Linked DNA regions of Homo sapiens: region 1 is linked to region 2. The links come from fine-mapping of genetic effects on gene expression. A gene starts in region 2. The other region holds a variant in brackets. All regions are shown on one strand. Distances are from middle to middle.

Region 1 (8,133 bases), 21 kb before region 2:
GTAAACGGAACCCTACCTTCCCAACCACTCACTCGATAGATTTTATTTGACTATTTAGCTTCATTTCTGATTGATTCTAAAATTTTACCTTTAGGTTTTGTGGCATCCCTCAAGCCCCCCCCACATACAAACGTCCACACCCAAAGTCTTAGTTCAAAGTGTTCCAACACCCACTCCTGTGGTCCCCAGGTTCACCCTCAAGTAAAGAACTGCCTGAATAATGAATTTCTTATGAAAAAAAGCCCCCCTCCCTCTGCTGCCTAAATTCTTGAGTTGCATCTTCCCGAAGTAGAGTCCTGGGTCTAAATATATCCTGGCTGTCTGTGGCTCCCCAGCAGTGGCTGTAAGCCTTGACTGTCCCTGACCCCACTGCCCTGTGTCCAGGGTCCCCATGGCACCTGCCCACCTGGGTGACTTGGTTCAAGGCCTCAGCCAAAAGCTTCTGGTTGATGCCGCAGAGGTTGGCCACCTTCTCCCGGCATTTATGGTGCACATTCATGCCGCAGTCTGGGGTGAGGGAGAAGCGGGGCTGTCAGTCTCAGAGCTCAGCCAAGGGCAGGGGGCAGTGTAGGAGAGGCGCAGGAGAGCAAGAGAAAGGAGGGCTTCAGTGGGGTCTGCTGGGTTCCAGTTTCTAGGAAAACATTGATCTGAAGCCATCATAAATACTTCGATCTCTCTCTCTCTCTCTCTTTTTTTTTTTTTTTTGAGATGGAGTTTCCCTCTTATTGCCCAGGCTGGAGTGCAGTGGCGCAATCTCGGCTCACCGCAACCTCTGCCTCCTGGGTTCAAGGGATTCTCCTGCCTCAGCCTCCTGAGTAGCTGGGATTACAGGCATGCGCCACCATATCCGGCTAATTTTGTATTTTTAGTAGAGACGGGGTTTTTCCATGTTAGCCAGGCTGGTCTCGAACTCCCCACCTCAGGTGATCCACCTGCCTCGGCCTCCCAAAGTGCTGGGATTACAGGTGTGAGCCACCACGCCCGGCCAAGCATTTCAATCTTTCATGATTTTTGTTGTTGTTGTTGTTGTTGTTGTTGTTGTTGTTGAGACGGAGTCTCACTCTGTCACCCAGGCTGGAGTACAGTGACATGATTTCGGCTCACTGCAAGCTCTGCCTCCTGGGTTCACGCCATTCTCCTGCCTCAGCCTCCCGAGCAGCTGGGACTACAGGCGCCCGCCACCACGCCAGGCTAATTTTTTTGTATTTTTTTAGTAGAGACAGGGTTTCACCATGTTAGCCAGGATGGTCTCGATCTCCTAACCTCATGATCCGCCCGCCTCGGCCTCCCAAAGTGCTGGGATTACAGACGTGAGCCACCGCGCCCAGCCAATCTTTCATGATTTAAAGAAAAAGGAAAAACCAGAAGACAGGGACCTAATTCGAAACCCTTTAAAGAACATCTGGTCAACTTAAGCCGCTTTCCCTCCAGGGTCTTCTGTCTCATCTCTAAGTGAAGCAGAGGGCAGGGGAGGCCTGTCTGGGCGCCTGTCGGTGTGCACCAGGCCTGGCTTCAGCACCCTCTGCCCACTGGCCCCTCACAGGGACTCTCTAGGTCCTGCTTTTCTCCTCCAAATGGCTCAGAGGGGTGGAGCCGCCCACCTGTGGTCACACAGCAGGTAAGTGGCAGAGCCAGTCAGGCCAGTGGGGAGGGTCCACCAAGGCCTCACCCTCATCAGGTCCCTGAATGAGGTGCCCGTCTCCAGGTGAGGAGGCGAGGGTGGCGTGAGGTGGCTGGAATTCACAGCAGCACCAGCTGGGAGTGCCCCTCCTGCAGCCCAGGGGCGGGGTGGCACGCACCTTCACACTTTAATCCCTGCTTCACCAGTCCCCAGAGCAGGCTGCCGCAGTGGTCACAGAAGGTGGGGCTCATGTAGTTGTGAACCTTGAAGCGGTGCGGCATGTCGATGTTGAAGCGTTCTTTCTGGAACTGGAGGTGGGGGTATCACAGGCTGAGGGTCACGTGCCAGCTCCAGCCTCTTCTTCAACCCCTAGCTCTCCCCCAACCCTGGGCACAACAACATCCCAAGAGAGCTCCACTGGGAGAGGCAAGGAAAGACTAAGAAAAATGGGGAGGGAGGGTAAGCTCCCCAGGGAGGGTGGGGAGAGGGTGCAAATCCCTCCCATCTGGCCAAGCCCCCCAGATCCCCAGCCCTGCCCCGGACCCAGGCTCACTATAGTGTCCCGGCTGTTGGCCGCGGTGCCAGTGCATCTGCCGATGATCTTGTCGATGCATTTCTTGTGGATGGCAGCGTTACATTCTTGAAGAGGCACAGGCCCAGGAGGGGGAAGGGAAAGCACCGGGAGGGGCAGAGTCTATGAGCTGGTGCCTGCCGACCAGTCTAGCCCTCTACACAAAGCCACCGTTCTCCTGACCGCCCACACCCTCACCCCGCAGAGGCCCAGCGCTTGAGTCTTCCTCCTGCCAGCCCTCGAAGGAGGAGCCTGGAGAGGACGGGGCGGAGAGGACAGGCCAATCTGCAGGGGCTTAGAAAGAAGGAGTCCTAGTGGGCAGGGAGGTGGGCAGAAGTTAGCGGGCACAGGGCATCGCAATATGAGAAGCGGGGGCAGTTCTTCCAAGCCCTGGGATAGCAAACGGCTCCTAAATGCCCTCTCTTACACATGCACATGGACACGCCTCAAAACAGACACCTGTACATACACACAAAGCATGTGTAATAATGATAACAGACTTCTTACACAGAGCGGCTACCAGTGGAAGGCACTTAAAATACAGCTTTACATATCTTATTCCATTTGATCTTCACAATGACCCTATTATACATTATAGTTATATCTAATTTATAGATGAGGGCCAGGCACGATGGCTCACGCCTATAATCCCAGCACTTTGGGAGGCTGAGGTGGGTGAGTCACTTGAGGTCAGGAGTTTGAGACCAGCCTGGCCAACATGACAAAGCCCCTATTCTACTAAAAATACAAAAATTAGCCGGGCATGGTGGTGCACGCCTGTAATCCCAGCTACTCAGGAGGCTAAGGCAAGAGAATCGCTTGAACCTTGGAGAGGGAGGTTACAGTGAGCTGAGATCGCACAACTGCACTCTAGCTTGGGCAACAGAATGAGACTCAGTCTCAAAAAAAAAAAAATTATAGATGAGGAAACTGAGGCACAGAGAGGTTAAGTAACTTTGCCTAAGGCCCTATAGCTAGGAAGTGGTAGAGCTGGGATTCAAACCCAGGCAGTCTGACTCCAGCCTGCGGCGCCTCGTGTATACACCCTCAGGGACAGAGTGTGCTCACACCTGTGTACTCAGAGACACCCACATCTACACAGAAGCACATGCAGCCACTATGTGCCAGTAAAGGACCTATCATTGCCTCTCCGAGGAAAAGAGGCCTGGTGCATGGCCTGGGCTGGTTTCTGCGTGAATACTCTACTGTGCCCAATTGCCATCCACCAACTCCCCGTCACTGAATGCGGAGCTGGGAAGAGATGCGCAGAACTGGTTTTCCAGAGCAGCAGCAAGCCAGCCCCAGCACTCACTGAACTCAGCTGCTGTATCTACACTGGGAAAACTCACGTGCATACACTCTCTGAGCGCACACAGGCACTGGCATACACACAGGCACTGGCACA[C/T]GTGAGCACACATGGGTACATACGTACAAACTGGCCTGTGGAGACACTTACGCCTGCATTTGTAGCCTTGCTTGTTGAGGCCCCTGAAAGGCAAAACCCAGGCAAAGTGAGTGAGCGGGGACCGGGATCGGCCCCCACTACCCTGCACCACCACCAGTGGGCATGGCCGGTTCTCACCAGACAAAGTCTTTGCACACAGAACAGAAGGTGGGTTGCCCAAAGAAGGTGGCGATAAACTCATGGTTCTTGATGTAGTGGATTTTGGCCTGTTTGATGGCTCCGCGGCGGTTCATCGTTGGGAACTTGGCCTCGTCCTCACTGCGCATAGACTGTTTGCAATCTGGTGACCATGGAGTAGGGAAGTCAGCCCTGGTATCTGGAAGGGGTGGCACCCCTACAGTCCCTCCCAGGGTGGTCCTGGACAGCTCTGCCGAAGGGAGCAGCTTCCCTACACCTCAGTGCTGGCTCTGCCTCTGAACCCGGCAAGGGAGCCCTCCACCCCCAGGGAGTTCTTACCCACGTCCTCCAGGAAATACTGAACAGACATCAACACCTTGGCCTGAGGCTGCAGGTCCAGCTGTTGGGGGCCAGAGGCCAGGGGAGAACAAGGTCAGTGAGGGCAGCCTGGGCCAGGCCAAACTCAGAACCCACCCCCATGGCTGGTCCCCCAAGGCCAAGGCAGCCCCCCAAGGCCTAGCCAGACACTTGTCTGCCCAGTGTGGGCAGGGCCCCGCCTGAGCCCCACTCCTGAGCCCCACCCCCACCCTGTACCCAGGGGTATTATTACATTTAGGGAAGTGAAAGGGTCCAGCCCACACCCAGCCCAGACACATAGCTGGGGAATAGAGCGGGAAGGGAAATTCCCCACCCCTACCCGCTGCAGCTCCCTTAGCAAGGATCTTAGAATGGAGGCCCCTACCCGTGTGCACATGCGGAGAGAGACAGACACACAGACACACTCATCCTCGTGCACACACGCTGCTCCTCCCTCTGTGCCGAGGGCTCCTCATGCAGATTGGACAGTCTCGAGGGTGGGACCTGAGCCTCTATCCCCTCACCTCCCCCAAGACCTAGACCTGGTGACTGATATCCTCCCTTGGGGGAGCGGAGACAGCACAGCCAGAGGCCCCTCTGTGTCCCTGCCTGACTGGCCAAGGGTCAGTACAGCCCTGTGTTAACCTCTCTCCCATCCCAGCCCCCTCACCCCTCGCAGGAGGCTGATCAGAGCCTCCAATGGTCACAGGGCCTTTCCTGGTGGAGACATCTTGGTTACATCCCACATGTAACCCCAGGGGACTTCTGCCAGCACTGGCATCCTGTGGCCACCCAGAACACACAGCTGCACATGGCCAAGTGGCCACATGCTTGTGCAGAGTCTCCATTTCAGCAGGTAAGTAGATGAGACCGTCAGCCTCCCCTTCTCCCACCTCCTTGCTGTTAAAGATCACTATGTTGCCCCCTCAATGGCTGCCAAGGCCTAGAATATATGCGAAGATTCCAAAAAGAACTGGGATAATGGGTGCCTCTGGGAAGGAGGCCTGGTGGCCTGGTGTTGGGGCAGGGACACACCCTTTCATGCAGTTAAAAATGTTTTACTATGTGCATATCCTGCCTTTCCAAAATTAAAAAGGAAAAAGTAGTCACAATAAGGAAGTTGGCCGTCTTTAGCACCTGCTATGTGTCAGGTTCTGCAATAAGCCCTGTACATCCAGCTGCTCCTTTCATTTGAACAACTGACCCTGAGGTAGGCACATTTAGTAGCGCCTTCCCTTAACAGATGCGGAAGCAGAAGCTCAGAGAGGCTGGGAATCTGGTGAATTGCAGAGCCAGGATTCACACCCAGGACATGTTGGCCACAGGGCTGGACTGGTGGCCAGCACAGGGCCCGGTGCTCTTCAGCTGTGCTCACTGACCAAGCCCGCGTGTGTGCACGCACACACATGCACGCATGCACACACACACAGACACACACACACACACACACGGCACGGCTCGTGCGCCCCTTACCCAGAACTCAGCCTTGCCATTGTTCTTCTTGCAGCGCTCGGCCAGCACCGACACACCCACGGTCACCTCAGACACTGGCTCCTCTGCTGCCCGCATTAGCACAATCTGGATGACGCGCCCCTCATAGATGTGGGCATCGAACGTCGACTTCCACTCAGGATACATGGTCGGCTTCTTCTGCACCAGTGTTTTCCCACGCTCTGCAACAAGGCCAGGCAGAGAAGGTTGGGCCATGGCCCCTCTGTCCCTCCCTCGTAGACCTCCACGGCCTTCCCCTGGCAGAATCTGCCCGACTCTCCTGCCTTGAGGGCCTGCTGTGGTTCCCCAGTGTCCTCTAGAGCACAGAACTACCTTGGGCACCCTGCTAGGTCCTCCCTCCAGGCCTTTGTTCCTGCTGTTCCCTCTTCCTCTGATCCTCTTGCTCCAGCTCCATTTAAATGTCGCCTGCCCTTATGCATTCATGCAGGGAACATGGGCTGACAGCTCCTGCATGCCAGCCATAATATTCGAGGCGCAGAACACAGCTGAAAGAAAAGCTACATCCAGGGCCTGTCCTCCTGGATCCCCAGGCCCGGGTGGCGAATGCACCAACTCCTTCCTCAAGTAACTGTTAAGTCACAGTTGTGATGAGACTGAAGAGGGCAAGGCTGGTAGTGCTACAGGGTCAAGCCTAAGGGTCAGGGAAGATTTCCTAGAGGAAGGAACAGTTCAGCCGAGACCTGAGGGACAAATAGGGGTTCACCAGGCCAGGGCAAAAGCAAGAGGGAATGATGTGAGGTATGTGCTTCCTCCAGGAAGTCCTCCCTGACCTCAGGTTCAGAGGGTGCCTTCTCTGGGCTTCCCTATTGCAGGACTCACTGCTTTTTGACGTGCCTGGTTTCCCCACCTGACTATGAACCCCATGAGGGCAGGGCCAGGTTAGTCCTGGAGCATGACAGTATCCTCAGTGCCCCGCACAGGCCCTGGCACAAATGGACATGTAAAAATTGCTGGGTAAAACAACCAGGGAGGAGGAACCAGAAACTCCAAGCCTTCCAAGGAGGGCTCAATTTGGCCAGTGTTTGCAGCCCTATAGCGACTCAGTGGCCTCTGCCTTCATAGCTGAGTGGGGCAGGGAGTCAAGGATGAGGAAGAGCAGAATCCTTCAGAGGTTGCAGGGAACAAGGCCAGGCCCCCTCCAGTCCTTCCAGCTGGGCCCAGATTCCCAGCCCCTCTCCAGGGTCCAGCCTCCAGGCCTACCTGTGCTGAGCGCCTCCTTCATCTTCACGGCACAGAAGGGCTGGTTCGCCTCGTCCTCGGCCTGCAGGGAGCCCAGCTCATAGGAGTTGAAGGCGATGCGCAGGAACGGCGCCATGGTGGGGCCTGCAGTGGGGCTGTGCACACAGAGGGGTGAGGCCAGGCGGCCGGGCGGGACCAGCGGGAACAGTCACGGGCAGCACTCAGGGACCCGCTCCCCCAGGGCTCTGCTATGATTGGGTTTGGCCCACATGATGCACACACACACTAGTCTCAGTTGCCAGTGTTAAAAACTGAGAGGTTTGCCAGGCGCAGTGGCTGACGCCTGTAATCCCAGCACTTTGGGAGGCCAAGGTAGGCAGATGGCCTGAGGTCAGGAGTTTGAGACCAGCCTGACCAACATGGTGAAAAGCCATCTCTACTAAAAATTAGCTGGGTGTGGTGGTGCATGCCTGTAATTCCAGCTACTCGGGAGGCTGAGGCAGGAGAATCACTTGAACCCGGGAGGCGGAGGTTGCAGTGAGCCAAGATCGCACCAGTACACTCCAGCCTGGGTGACAAGAGCCAAACTCCGTCTCAAAAAAAAAAAAAAAAGAAAAAGAAAAAGAAAAATATTGAGAGGTTTATGTAAGTCTGGATTTGCGGCGTCTCTGGTAAAACTGGAAAATGTGATGTTGGGCCCACTGGGCAACAGCCAGCTAGCACTGGGATGGCTGCCCTCCATCAATCTACCCCAGGCCAGGGGCACTCTCTTCACTCCTCCTACCTGGGCCCTGGTGGCATTTGCATCTGTCACCCCTAGATATTCATTTGGGGAGTCACTCAGTGACTCCCTAAGTACCCTATTGCTGGGTACCTGCTCCATGCCAGGCACCTGGTATGTGCCATTGTCACCTGGTAAGGGGACAGGACAGTACTGCCTCTTTCTCCCATCCTGCCCCATGCAGCCCTTCATGATTTTCTAAGTTTGGGGTTTTTTCTTCATAACTACCCAGGCAGACAAGCAGTGCCAAGATAAACACCCCCCACTTTTCAGATGGGGAAACTGAAACCCTAAGGCAGAGAATCAGAACCAAAAGCTGACATTCCACTAACTTGGCACCCACTCTGTTCAGGGATCAGGGCAGTGAGAGGCTCTGCCCACATCAGTGTGCCTGACCCTTCTAAATTGACCCCTTGGGGTCGAGTGCCTCTCGCTTGCCTGGAAGGTTGCCTGCACCTTCAAACTAATTATTTCCCCAAATATAAAACAGGTGGGCATGGTGGCTCACTCCCATAATCTTGGTACTTCAG
Region 2 (8,133 bases):
TTGGCTCACTGCAACCTCTGCCTCCTGGTCTCAAGTGATTCTCGTGCCTCAGCCTCCTGAGCAGCTGAGATTACAGGTGCGCGCCACCACACCCAGCTAATTTTTGTAGTTTTGGTACAGACAGGGTTTCACCATGTTGGCCAGGCTGGTCTCAAATTCCTGACCAAGTGATCCACCTGCCTCGGCTTCCCAAAATGCTGGGATTACAGGTGTGAGCCACCGTGCCCAGACTGAAGAGTGACATTTTTTAATCTCTTGTGCCTTACAGTTCAGGTGATTCTCACATTACTATTGTGCCCATTACACAGCTGAAAAAACTGAGGCCTGGAGATATCCTGGGAGGAAGAAATGGCAAAGGTAGCAAGGTACTCTGTGTCTCCTGGCTGAAAGGCCTAAGCATTTTCTCTGAAGGCCAGCTCAAGCCTCTAAGAAAGATTCTGCTCCCCAGATGTGAACCCCTCCCCCAGCTGGAGACCCCCATCACCATTCCCTGGGGGCAGAGGCATCCTTGGCTTTATCTTTTTGTCTGTACTTTAAATTATTTCTAATTTTAATCTAAACTGTGCCAGCTAAATGGTGTCAGCGCCCTGCAGTCACAGCTCTGAATCATCCCCCACCCCTGTCTCCCCCATCGCTACTACTGACACTAAGGTCTGGTGAGGGAGGGGCTGTCATGCAGGCTGAACAGGGCTGGGTACTGGGGGCTCTGTCTGGGCATCCCCCCTCCCTCAAGCTGCTTGGTCAAGGAGATGGGAAGGGGCAACAGACAGGCAGGAAATTGGGTTGGATACTGTCTGGGCTTTCTTTAGCCCCAGCTCCCAGGAGAATGGGAACCGTATAGCTGGGGGTGGTGACAACAAAAGACTTCACATGTGCTGTGTTCTCACTATGGGCCAAGATTGTGTTAAAGGACCTTTAACACAGGAACTTTTGTCCTCACTCTCTCCATTCTGCAGATAAGGACACTCAGCCTTGAGAGGCCTAGCTTGGGTCTCTTGCTCTTAACAGGCACAAGCAAGTATTGGAGCCCAAATAATTCTTGGGTACAGAGCCCGAGGTCTTGGTCACAACACTACAAACCCCAAGACTTGCCCTCTAGCCCTCTCCATGTGCACACCCACATCCTCATGGTCTCCCACACACTCACACACACACCCCCACACTGGGCTCTCACCTTCCCTCCCAGCACTGTCACCACACACCTTGTCACACCCCCTCCTGCCGCTAACACCCACGCCCAGGCACTCTCGGTTCCCCACAATCACAGTCACTCCCCAAGCATACACCGGCAGTTTCATAGACTGTGTCCCACCAGTCACACACTCCTACCGTGGCCACACACTCCCAGGCTTACCCCAGCACTGTCCCATCGCATAGCCCTCACACCACCCATCAGCCAGGTACAGCTGCCCAGACACCACCACACCTCTCTGTCACACACACACGCACACACACAACCACACATATCACACATGCACCATACAGCCTCCCTCTGCTGGCCTGCTCACCAAGCCCCAGCTCACTCCACAGCAGGAACGAGGAAACCCCAGGGATCAGTCCCCTCCCTTAGTGACCAGGTGGGCCTGGTCACAGAAACTCAGTGGCAGAGGGAGAGCCACACGTGAGTACACACACATACACACACTTATACAGATACACTCACACATGAGACTGGTGGGTAGGCACCCAACACCAGGGGCTTCCACAATTAACAGATCTAACGTACTCATGGCCAGTTGGTCACCATGATATACCCAGTGTGCAACACCGAAACCTCCAGACACACAGGGACACACACACTAGCAGGCAAGGACACACACACACACACACACACACACGAGTCTGGTGACAACAAACACACCAAGAATGGTACACACAGTTGCAAAAGACACACACAGAGCCTCAGGACACAAACAGACATACACACATACACACAAGCAAGTCACACATGCGAAAAAGGACACACATGCACAGGCAAGTCCCACAGTGACAGACAGCACAGAAGCTGACACAGACACACAACATACCCACACACCCAGATACCAGTGACTTAGCACAAGGAGACAGCTTCCACGCATACAGGGTAGGCGTCAGAGAAGGGGACCCCCCGCCCACTCACAGCAGATCCTTCTGACCAGGTTTAAGGCGGGGCTCGGTGGGGCTCTCCCCTGCCCCAAGAGAGAGGGAACTGGGGAAGTGGGAGCAGTTCCGATGGTGCTCTCCTTCTGCCGCTCCACCACCAGCCAGGAGGACCCCCCCCCCCGACCTCCTCCCCTCATCTGGTGGAGCCCCCACAACGGGAGTGGCATCTGGGTTGGGGGCGAGTACAGACCGTATCGGGCAGGGGCCACCCTGGGAGGGGTCTCAGAGGGGCGGAGGGGTGGGGTGGGAAGGGGGATGGTGGAGACTGGAGCCACGCCCAGCCCAGAGACGGATGAAGGGACCGAGAAAGACTCTTGAGACCGAAAGAAGAGACAGCGAGGAGGAGGCGCCGCGCGGGTCGGGCCTCCAGGGACCCAGGGGCGGGAGGCGAGGCCCGGCGGGCGGCCTGGCCTGGGCCCCGCGGTAGAGCGGAGAGGCGGCTGGACTGGCAGGGGGCGGCGAGCGTGGGCCGGGGGCGCGGCTCCGGGAGGACGGGATCGAGGGGGCGGCGGGCGGGGGTAGGGGTGTGGGTGGGGGTGGGGCGATGGAGCACGCGGAGGGCAAGGGACGGACGGATCGGGTGGCGAGGGACAGAAGGATCGGGTCTCGGAGAGGCGCGCAGGGGGAGAACACAGAGTGGGTGGCGACAGACGGACGGACACAGGGCCCGGGAGAGAGTCGGGAGGGACGGACGGGCCCCTCGGAGGAGCGGGAGACACACGGGCGGGTGGAGGGGCCGGGAGCGGGCAGACAGAAGGACCTCAGCCCCCACTGTCTAGCGGAGGGACACACAGACGGACAGGGGGACGGAGTCACCGGCAGGTCTCGGCGCGGCGGGACTTTCGCTGACCGCGGCTCAGTTTCTCAGTTTCGGAAACGGGAACTGGGGCGGGAAGGGGGAAGGAAGGGCGCCGCGCCCTCGGGGTAGCCCCGATCCCGCGCCCGGACCCGGCCCTCACTTACCTCCCGTTGCAGGGGCAGGCGCCAAGGGTCGCGGCGGCAGCGGCGGGGGCGCCGCTCCCCGGCGCGCGCGGACGGGGTTCGGCGCGGCGCTGACTGGGATGGGCCAAGCGGCCAGTGAGGTGTGGCCCGGGCCTCCGCGCGGCGGGCGGGCGCCGGGGGTCGCTCGGGAGATGTGGGCTACAGCCGCCTCGGGCTCCGGCGCCGCGGCACACGGAAGTGCGAGGGGGCGGGGCCGAGCGACCTCACCCAGGTGCCGCCGGCCCCGCCCCCGCCAGGCCCCGCCCCCGCCAGGCCTCGCCCTGCCAGGCCTCGCCCCGCCAGCTGCAATCGGGGACAGCGTCCCTCCGCCTCTGCCTGCGCGGGACACCGAGTCTCCCGGTCCCTCTGCCCTGCCTGGCCCTCTTCGCATCCTCCCGCCATTAGCGCGCAGCCAGCCCTCAGAAGGGGCCCATTTTACAGAGGAGGACGCTGAGGCCCGGTGGGGAGGCTCCCTCCGCCCGCTGGGGCCTGGGAGGGGCCGGCGGGGGTTCCCCCGCTCCCCACACCCACGCCCGGGACTCCCCACTGGCCAGCTGGCCCGCCTCTCCTGGCCCCACTCCTGCTCTTCCTGTTGGCTGGAGCTCGGACGCGGCCGGGCGCGGTGCCCGCCGCCAAGCCCGCTGTCCCGGCTCTGCCCCAAAGACTGAGCTGGTTAGACTCCAGGGTCGGAGGTTCTCGCTGGTCGGGCGCTGCACTGCTCCTCAGGCGGTTCTGGGAACTGCCCCTACTCGGACTGGCAGTTGCCCCTACCCCGATTGGCAGTCTTCTGCTTTCCTGCCCCCACCTTTGAGACCTCTCTATTGCTCCTGGCAGGCGCCTGAGCCTCCTTTCCAGACATGGAACTTGGTTGTCAGCCATAACTCCTTCATTCATTCATTCACTCATTCATCTATTCACCGAGTGTCCCCTAGGCTCAAAGTCTAGGGACCAGTTGGGGTTCTAGGGAGTCCATTCCCCTGTCCCCAGAGCTCAGAAAGCCAAGACATTAGCCTTATACTCATCCAAAGAAATGTCACTTCCCAGGAGACAAAAAAGAGGGTTCCAGGTCCTGGGGAACCACCTAGAAGGGATAGAGAAAGTCTAGACAGCTCTTCCCAGCTGAGACACAAGGGATGGAAGTGGGGGACAATCCCTGAGGTGGCCTGAGCTGAGAAAGGGGCTTGTGACAGAGACAGGCCATTGGACTTTGGTCTTCTCACAGAGCAATGAGAAGGTGGTGAAAGCTATTACAACCAGGCAGGATGACAGGCTCAAGGGGGCTCCTGCGGGATAGATGGGGCAGAGGGACAGCAGGGCAGAGGAGAGGCTGGATGGGGGACAGAAGGGCTGCCACGTTGTTCAGGTGGGAGGACCCTGGTTGAGATTGCGGAAGATGGATGGGGAGAAAAGGCCAGACCAGGTGGGTTCAAGGACTATCCTTTGGGAAAGACTTTCTCTTCACACCCAGGCCTTGAGCATGCTGTTCTCTGGGCCTGAATGCCATTTCCCACCCCACCCCCAAACCTCTACCTGCCCTGGTTGTGTCCATTCAAATGTCCCTCCTCCCTGATGCCCAGTTGTAATGCACGGCACTTCCCTGAGTGAAGGACCATATTCATTAGCATGTTCTGTGTCCTGATCCCATCCCACCCCACCCATCATGCCCCATGGCTTCCCTGGGGTTGGACTGGAGGAAAGGGTAAACAAGGTGAGCCTCAAGTGACCTTTGCCCACTTGGGATCGGGTTTCCTTCTGGCTCCTCCTTCAGGTCCACAGTAAGCCAACCCAGTCTCTCCCTCAACATAAACAATAGGCCCACCCTGTGCCAGGGACTGCAGCCAGAGGGAGGACTGACCCTTGAGGAGCTCCAGGTCCAGCCACCAGACCTTTGTTCCCACTCCGTGTGGTTCACCATGGAAGAAGGAAATGAATAATCATGGCTATCGCTGATAGGGGCTACCCAGCACCAGGCTGTGTGCTGGGTGCTGGATGTGGGCAGTCTGAACAGTTCTCAAGAGGTGAGGGCTGCTGTTAGTGCCAGTTTTGGTGATGAGCAAACTGAGGCTCAGAGAAAGGAGAAGCGACTTGCCCCAGAGTACACAGCTAGTCAGTGGCAGACGCAGATTCAGACCGAGGTCTGTCTGGCTCCAAAGCCCATAGTTTACATCAGGGATCTCAATTTCAGCACCACTGACCTTTGGGACAGATGATTCTTTGCTGTGGGGGCTGCCCTGTGCACTGTAAGGATGTTGAGCAGCATCCCTGGCCTCTGCCTAGTGGATGCCAATAGTACCTCCCTGCTTTAACTTGTGACAGACAAAAATGTCTCCAAACATTGCCAAATGTCTGCTGCAGGGCAAAATTACCCCTTGTTGAGAATCACTGCTTTGACATATACTGGTGTTACAGGAACAAGATTTACATTAGACAACAGGAAGCACTTTCCTGATCCTCAGGATATGCAGACTTGTGAGCTCAGGGGCTGCAAGCATACACTGGCTTCAGCCAATCTTTCTCCTCTAGAGAAAGGGGAAGTGCGATGTACTCAGAGAGGGTCAGAGGGGCTAAGGCTGTGCTAGCTATGCTGTGGCGAGGGCAGAGAAGGGATGAAGGTGGGCTTCCCTCCAGGCCTTAGGTCCAAGGGTTCCAGGGAGAATAGGTTTGCATGAGGTCCAGAGAATCCAGGCCAAGCTTGACTAGAACCACCCTGCATCTTGGAGCTGCTTCTGGGTGCCACACTGGTGGGCCAGGGCAGGGTCCAGATGAGCTGGTATCTGTGTCCCCATAATCTGCCTTGCATCAACAAGAAGGGCCTGCTGAAGCCTGAGAGCAAACCTTGGCTGTGTCACATGCCAACTGTATGACCCTGAGTAGGTGACCATGCCTCTCCCAGCTTCAGAGTTCTCACCTATGAAAAGGGCTGATGACAGACTCATGTCAGGAGTTGAATGAGGTGGTAAGAGTTAAATGAGATGATATATACAGAGCCTCGGCCAGGCTAGACACATTGCCCAGGGTTACAGCCTGGTCATGTGCCAAGTCACAGGCTGTCAGCCTTGAAAGAGGCTTCAATGGCCTCTCCTGACATGGGGCGTAAATCCCTGAGCAGGGCTAGACTCATAGCAGCTGCCTAGAGGTGATACTTTCCTCCTCCTCCAGGTTTGCAGCCAAGGAGATGGGCTAGGGTGGTGCCAGGCAGCTTCCAGACTCCCACCCACAGCATCCACCCAGGGCTGTTCCTTCTGTGGGCCTCCTGGAGGATTTATCCAGAGGAGAAGCAACTTGACCCCTGCCACCTCTGCCTCCTCCAAAGGCCATCAACCCTGGGAGGCCTCCAGACTCCTCCACTCCTGAAGTCCAAGACTCGGCCAAGCAACCTGGAAAAGGCCTCCCTCTGTCCCTGAGGCCCACACAGCTGAAGGCAAATGGGGTCCCTCACTTGATCCCTGCCAAGAGTTGGTCCTTGTCCTGGCATTTCTGCTTTTTGCACCTTCTCTCTGTTTCTGTCTCTCTGTGTCACCATCCTTGTCCCTGAAGCTTTGGTTGCCACGGCAATCCCCATCACACCCAGAGCACTGGCCTGGCCAAGAGAGAGTGGGCTTGTGTTTCTGGAGCAGGAGACACAGTCAACAGCGACAGTGCACCTGGGCAATTGCTGGGGGCAGCAGAGCCTGGGAGGTTCCCACTGGGGACAGTGTAGTAGGAAGGACACTTGGGACATGCCCATGCCTCAGGCCACCAAGACTGTCATCGACAGGAGTGTCAGCCTCAGGTACTAGGTTAAGGACAAGCAAGGACAGGCTGAGGGGGACAGTGGCCTTGTGGGTAGTGCTGCACAGCAGGGAAGTGCCAGCCCAGGGGCTGGTTCGCATCCTGGCTCTGCCCTGCACTGCAACTTAAATGTGCCTCAGCTTCCTCATCTGTGGAGTGGTGTTTGGTTAAGATCGACCTCCTGAGGCTGAGAGGATGGAAGAGTTCAAGTTCATCCCATGTTGGTGTTACCTGCCAGGCAGAGAGTTGGTGAGGCTGGGCTAATTGCCTCCATGTTCCTTCCTCAACACATTTGTGTTTGGGTGAAACCTGAGACATACTTGGGGGTAGACAAGGGGAAGGTGTGTCCTGGGAGTGCAGAACACAGGGCTTTCCTGTGGCTCTCCCAGGGGTGTGTACCCTGGACTGTCCCTTCTCTGCACTGACCATGGCACAGCCCCTGCCAGCCTGAGTCCCCTTCCCTGGCTCCTCTGCCCCTGCCCCCAAACATGTGTGTAGGTGGGGAGAAGGGGCACTGGTGTTGGGACAGTCATCAGCAAGAGCTATCCCCTCGCACGGAGTCCAGGGGACCTCCCAGCTCTCCTCCACCGCCCCCATCCCCGGCACCCATTTAGCTCTAATCTACGGGGTCCCTACTGGGAGGCTCATGGGGCTTAGCAGGGCAGGGAGGGCTATAAGCCTCACCTGCCTTTCCTTTCGCTCCCTGGCCTGAGGGTGCCTCAGCTCCCCGCTCCCACCTCTCAGCCCCTCATCCCCCACATCCTCAGAGGACAGCTCACCAAACCCAGCTTGGCCCATGGGAAACAGTGTAGGGGGTGGCCCTGAGCTGAAAGGCGGCTGCTCGAGGTTGGCAGGCTGGGAAGGACTGACTGCAGGCACAGCAGGGTCCCCCGCGCCGTGCACACACCTCCATACCCACCGCACAACCACGTACACGCCAGTCGGCGCGACCCCCGTGCACCAGCACAAAGTCCCCCGGGCCCCACCCTCCCGCCCCGCCCCGCCCCGCCCCGCCTCAGGGAAGCCTTTCCGAGCCGGGGGCGCAGACGCCCGCCCAGCCGCGTGACGCAAACCCCGCTATAAAACACCCGGCTCTATTCCCGGGTCCGGCAGCCACCTGGCTCCAGGCGCCGGGAGGCCCTTTCGCCTCCTCACCCTCTTTGTTCTCCAGGAAAGTCAGGAAGACCTGAGCTCGCCCATTCCTTGGATGGAGCAACTGAGGTCCTGGGTGTGAGGGTC

The links. PIP is the estimated chance that this variant, and not a neighbour inherited with it, causes the effect.
Region 1: its variant is the best candidate, but not a certain one, in a credible set for the expression of PRKCD in whole blood (INTERVAL, PIP 0.51).

What each region holds. Positions count from the first base shown.
Region 1 is chr3:53,177,248-53,185,380 of GRCh38, reverse strand. It overlaps PRKCD (protein kinase C delta), which reads right to left. Exons shown (of 19, transcript NM_006254.4): 3 at 6,844-6,977; 4 at 5,605-5,804; 5 at 4,114-4,174; 6 at 3,775-3,937; 7 at 3,649-3,680; 8 at 2,175-2,260; 9 at 1,800-1,929; 10 at 407-507. The coding sequence starts at 6,958. Among named protein-coding and RNA genes, the nearest start is that of PRKCD, 20 kb to the right of the region's middle. RefSeq lists enhancers at 4,000-4,159, 4,420-4,469. The variant C/T (reference allele first, on the strand shown) is at 3,598.
Region 2 is chr3:53,156,401-53,164,533 of GRCh38, reverse strand. It overlaps PRKCD (protein kinase C delta), which reads right to left and starts at 3,325. Exons shown (of 19, transcript NM_006254.4): 1 at 3,106-3,325. RefSeq lists silencers at 2,374-2,603, 2,874-3,823 and enhancers at 5,478-5,557, 7,554-8,054.